Regions from separate parts of the Homo sapiens genome. Here region 2 is linked to region 1. The links come from fine-mapping of genetic effects on gene expression. Tissue or cell type: blood mononuclear cells. Region 1 holds a variant in brackets; the other region holds the start of a gene. All regions are shown on one strand. Distances are between the middles of the regions.

Region 1 (2,845 bases):
GGCTTACTGCAAGCTCCGCCTCCTGGGTTCACGCCATTCTCCTGCCTCAGCCTCCCAAGTAGCTGGGACTACAGGCACCCGCCACCACGCCTGGCTAATTTTTTTGTATTTTTTTGGTACAGACGGGGTTTCACCGTTTTAGCCAGGATGGTCTTGATCTCCTGACCTCATGATCCGCCCACCTTGGCCTCCCAAAGTGCTGGGATTACAAGCATGAGCCACGGAGCCCAGTGAAACTCTTTTGAGTTTCTGATGAGCCTTTCCAAAGGAGGCAATCAGATATGCATTTATCTCGGCGAGCAGAGGGATGACTTTGAGTTCTGTCTGTCATTTGTCCAGAAGGAAATTCCTTGTGAGGGAGGTATGTAGCTTTTGAATCTTAGTAGCCATCTTTTTTTTTTAGCAATAGAATGGGAGGCAGGTTTGCCCTAAGCAGTTCCCAGCTTGACTTTATCCTTTGGCTTAGTGATTTTGGGGTCCCAATATTTATTTTCCTTTCACAATGTTTAGAGGATTTAATGAAAAATCAAACTTGTGTCTGTAGCATCTTTCCCAGTCACCAGCCCCTCCCGGAGCCAGCTTGGCGCAACAGGAGTGGACAGGGACAGCCTCTGGGCCGTATTGCCCTGTAGTCTATGGAGCCGCCCTGCTGGAGGGGCTGGGCTGGGCAGCCTCTGCTGGCTGGGGATGGTTTGGGAGTTTTACTCCAAGGCCTGCCACAGAAGGGCAGCTGTCATCCTCTCCCGTGGCTGGAGACATTTAGGCTGCAGCCCTTGGAAGGCTGTGAAATGGACACGACCCTGTGCTGAGTTTCCACCCTGCACAAACATCTTTGGAAGCAGCGCTCGTTTAATTTTCCATGAGTCCTGAGAAGAAGATGTTGCCATCAGCCCTTTGATTTTGCAGATGGCGATCCTGAGACTCAGAGAGGTTAAGCAACTTTCCTATGTCACACAGCTGGTTAGGAACTGAGCTGGGATTTAAACCCAAAGGTCTTCAAAGGTGGGACCCTTTGTGCCAGCAGGAACCTGTTAGGGGAACACTGTGGGAGAGACAGTAAGTAGATTGCACTGGGTGGGGGGCGTTGGGGAAGGAGGGAGTTGAGGGGGAAGGGAGGGAGTATGTGCAGCGGGGAATAGTTATGCAGCCCCCACCTTGATCATATAACAGCAAGAAAGTGTCCCAAGACCCAAGAAGGAAGTTAGCCTAGATCTTATTTTTCAACACAATCTAACAGTGACTTTGTTAAGAAACAGAAATTCAGGGCCTAAGAGGTTGTTGGAACAATGCCAGGTTTCGCTTCCTTTCC[CG/C]GGCAGCTCTCCTGCGACGACCTTTGACTTGGGAGGGGCAGGTCGTCCATGAGCACGAGTGACCGGGTCCCTGATGCTTTCCTCGTGGTTACAGCCTCGCCTGCAGGTTCGGGCACTGTGGGGTGGGGCGGGAACGTGGCTGGCACTATGAAGTATCCACCTTTCTGCGGGCTCTGCCGCCTCATCCCTCCAACAGCAAGCCAGGGCTGGTGGCTGTACTGTTCCCTCGTCCCTCACCTAGCATCCCCTTTTTCCAGAGGACGAAAGGTAGGGGAAGCTAAGAAATGATGGCACAGGATTTGAACTCAGGACTATCTGGGCTCACAGCTGATGACGATTCTATACCACCTTACTGTCCTAGGCAGGGCAGGAGCCCCAGACAGGATGGGTAGCCTTTCTGAAGTTAAAATAGTAAAAGGCAAAAAGAGAGCCCTTACCCGAGCATGCAGCTATAAAGGAGCACACAGTTCTCCTCTGGCCCCTCTCCGAGGATGGGTTCTCCGCTTCTGCGAGGCCAGACGCACCGCAGGCATCTGCCTTTGATTAGAACGGGCAGACAGGAAACATACCTGCGGTCCCGGGCCTCTCTCACACTCCAGAAATGCCATTCACAGACAGGGAAGAGGGAGAAAGGATGGGAGGAAGGGAGGAAGGGAAGGAGAACAATCAACAGCTACATGGGAGCGTGCTGGGAGGTAGGATCACCGCGGGAGACAGAAATGGGCCTCAGCCGCAGGTCAGGGTGTGGACACGGAGGCAGCCAGGCCTGATCTGCTGGGGGAACCACACTGGGCCGGGCGTGGAGAGGAGGTTTGCCGTGTGTGCAGCAGCTTGCAGGGAGCCAGCTGCCGAGAGCTGGGGCTGCTGCTTCTGAGCTGAAAGGGAAAGAAGGGTACATCTTTCAGAGCCACTCAGTCCCCCAATCATAGTGCCTGGCTGCGACCTCCCACTGGGCCCATCACAAGTCCTCATGGTTGGGGACGTCAGTGACCTGCAACAGGGTCAGGGAAGAACATCCTGGCCAGGAGTGAGCTAAGGAAGAGATGCACCACAGAGCCCTGGTAAATGCCTGGGAGTGAGAGCCTTACACTCACCATCTCTTTCCTCTCTGCCTGTTGTAGTTAAAAACCACGCTCTTGACTTGCTGATGCTTTGAGCTGCTTGTTGCGGGTGGAGGTGGCTTCCCACGGCTTCTTGCACAGTGTTGGCCCTGACCCACCGTCCCCCAGGCAGGGGGAGACTGCTGTGTTCAAGGGGAGTCCTGGGTGCATGCGGAACAGAATAGGGAGTCCCCACTGGGGCAGGCGCTGGCAGCTCTTCACCGTGTCAGCTCACTCAGCCCTCAGGTCGTCCTATCCTCAGGTGTGACCTGCAATGTACAGGTGCAGAAATGGAGAAGACCTGTGCTGAGTCCCAGAATGACACTGGGCCTGTGGAGGCTGCCAGGAGAGACACTGCCAGGTTCCCACGGCGGAGACACTGGCACTACAGCCCAGAGAGGAGGACACTTTATTAACTTGTCACATCGAGCAAAG
Region 2 (2,666 bases), 90 kb before region 1:
CTTCCGCTAGATGGCGCTACTTCCCCTACTCCGCCCGCGAGACACCCAATTTATAAAATAAATACAACCCAACACCTCCCAAAACCACACCACATAATAGCAGCTCACAGGCTCCCATTAGAAATCTCAATTTGGGAGAACTGATTCTACCTCCGAGCAAGTCTAATACAATTACATTAATAAGACGCAATCCCGAATTGCACCCGAGCGTCCCCCACACCCGCCCTCCCATTGAATACACCTGTCCCCCATGCCCGGGCTTGTACCCTGGGTTGAGCTGCGGCGCGAGCCGGCGCTGAATCGTCGCCGTGCCCTCCCGTCCACTTAGGAAAGCCGGGGCGGCTTGGCAATGGGCATCCTCGGCCCTCAATCCAAGGTCCGCACCTTCCCGTACGCCGGCGCGCCGAGGCAAAGGGCCGCCGGGACGCGAGCCCACGCGGTGCACTGCGCCGACATCCCCGAGGGCAGGAGATGGCCAGGCAGCTCCGCAGCCGGGCGTCGAGCGGGAGGCGGGGGCCCGGGCGGCGCGGGCCAATGGGGGTTCACGGCGGGACAGTCGGGTGGCCGGCTCCGTCCGGGGCTCCGCGAGCCGGGCTGAGGGAAGGAGCTCCCAGCCCGCACACGGTGTAAGGGACGTGTGCCGGGTCTGCCCAACCACGCGCGCTGGCGGCTGCCCGGGGGAGAGTATTTTAGGAAAAAAGAACAAACACCAAACCACAAAAACTTTCCTGCTGCCAACAGCTAAAGCGATAGAGGCGCAGCAAAGCTCCAAATGTGGGCAAGATGGGAGCAAGATGAGACGCGGGGCTAAGGAAGACCAAAGCAGCGCCGTGGCCCCGGCATGTGTCGGCGGCGCCTCGGAGATGTCAGAGCCGGGTCTGCCCGGCTCCCGACCCGCGCTTACCTTGGCGGCTGCATGAGCCCCTGCGGCCCGCGGGGGGTGGCGCTGGCGGGGCTGCGGGAGAAGAGGGGGTGTCGGGGCGCCGCTCGTCTGCCCCGGGGCAAGGTGGGAGGGGCTCCGCTGGCGCTGGTCCCCGCCGCCCCGGCCGGCTCAGCAGCGGCCCGGGGAGCGCCTCCTGCTCCCGGGCTGCATGCCTGCGAGCGCCTGGCGGAGCCGGCCCGGGAGCGAACGGCCAGTGCTTCCCCGGCCCAGCGGCTCGGGCGGCGCAGCCAGCGCTCGGGAGACAACTGCAGAGTGGGGCGGCCGGGACCAGCCCCCTCCCTCGCCCGGCCCCCGCCCGCCGCCGAGCGCGGCGTCGCGAGGTTCGTTTGCGCGCCGAGGGGAGGGGGCGGGCCGGGCGCCCGGGCCGCGGGCGGGGGGCGCGCGCGGGCGGGGCCGGCAGGGAGGGGCGGGGAGGAGCGGGGTGCGGGCTCGCGTTGCCCCGCCCCGCCGCGGCCCCACCCTCCCGCATCAGCACCGGCTGGGTGGGTGCGGAGTGCGCCAGCGGCCAAGTCAAGACTCCTTGAATGCTCAGGTTAGGGGGCGCGGGCGGCAAGTGCGGCGACTCCCCGGGGCGCCTCCAACTTTCCGAATCGCCCGCAGGGTTGCGGTGGAGCGCACGGTGTCCTTCAGTTAGGCGGTGGTCGAGGGGAGTTCCTCTGAGATTTCTGGAGAAGGCGGTTACATCCAAGACAAATGCTGTTGCGCTCTGCGGAGACGCACCTTTGTTCTATAGAGATTTTGTTGTTGTTTAAGAATCTTCCTGAAAAAACTAATACATATGTATTACATGCTAACACACGCATACATTCTTGCGTAGAATTGTACATAACTCAGGAGTGTCTAGAGTGAAAAGACCGTATCGCACTCCCTCCCACGGCCGCGGCTCTCCCACGGCCGCGGCTCCCCCGCGGTAACCTTCGGTCAGGGTGTGCTCTGCCGCGGTTCTTTCCAGTCTCTGCGCTTTTACATGCACACGCACAGATTGCGAGTGGAATCTCCTGGGCTTTTCAAAAGAATGTTTTCAACATTAAGCGCATGCACACAGTGGCTTGAACACGGCCACGTCGGGAGCAGTAAATCCCCAGAGGCTCCGGGAGCCCAGGGAAGGACCCTTGCTGTGAAACAGCAAAGAGCCACCCAATCGCCATGTGTGGATCTGAAACCCCAGCTGGAGCGTGAAGTCGGTCTGGTTACACAGCTCAGGCCCAAATTAGCACTGCACGGTTAGAGAGATTTGCCAGTACATTCTAGACAGGGTTATGACCTTCCCCTTCTTACAGAACAAACTGTCTTGAATTTTGATATGATGAGAACTCTGGATTTGCAAAATGAAAAGGTATCGTCCGCATTAAAACACGATCGTTATTTATGCGTGTGGTCTTCAGAGATGTGGTTTTAACTCAATATTCTCCGTTTTATTTGTCAAGTGTATTTGTATAATCTATAGCTGGGATATAAATAAAATTAAGTGGTTTAGCAGGAAGGGATTGGGGATGGGTTTCTAGAATTAGCTCTGACCTTCGGCAAGTCATCTAGCTCTGCTGGGCCTCAGTTTCCTCATCTATGAATAGTAGGGTGTGTGTGTGTGTGTGTGTGTGTGTGTGTGTGTGTGTGTGTGTGGTCTTCCTGCCCTGACATTCTGTGCCCTGACATTCAGTGAATAACCAATTTCTTCATCTTTCATAGCTCAGCTCCAACATCTTCCCCACCCTCTAGGGAGTCC

Evidence for each region. PIP is the estimated chance that this variant, and not a neighbour inherited with it, causes the effect.
Region 2: it holds the start of RGMA, and the variant in region 1 is fine-mapped to the expression of RGMA in blood mononuclear cells (TOPMed, PIP above 0.99).

Annotation. Positions count from the first base shown.
Region 1 is chr15:93,177,917-93,180,761 of GRCh38, forward strand. No RefSeq gene overlaps it. Among named protein-coding and RNA genes, the nearest start is that of RGMA, 90 kb to the left of the region's middle. RefSeq lists enhancers at 2,020-2,558, 2,559-2,845. The variant CG/C (reference allele first, on the strand shown) is at 1,310.
Region 2 is chr15:93,088,015-93,090,680 of GRCh38, forward strand. RGMA (repulsive guidance molecule BMP co-receptor a) reads right to left here and starts at 1,197. Exons shown (of 4, transcript NM_020211.3): 1 at 905-1,197. The coding sequence starts at 918. LOC101927025 (a long non-coding RNA gene) reads left to right here and starts at 1,200. Exons shown (of 5, transcript XR_007064769.1): 1 at 1,200-1,263.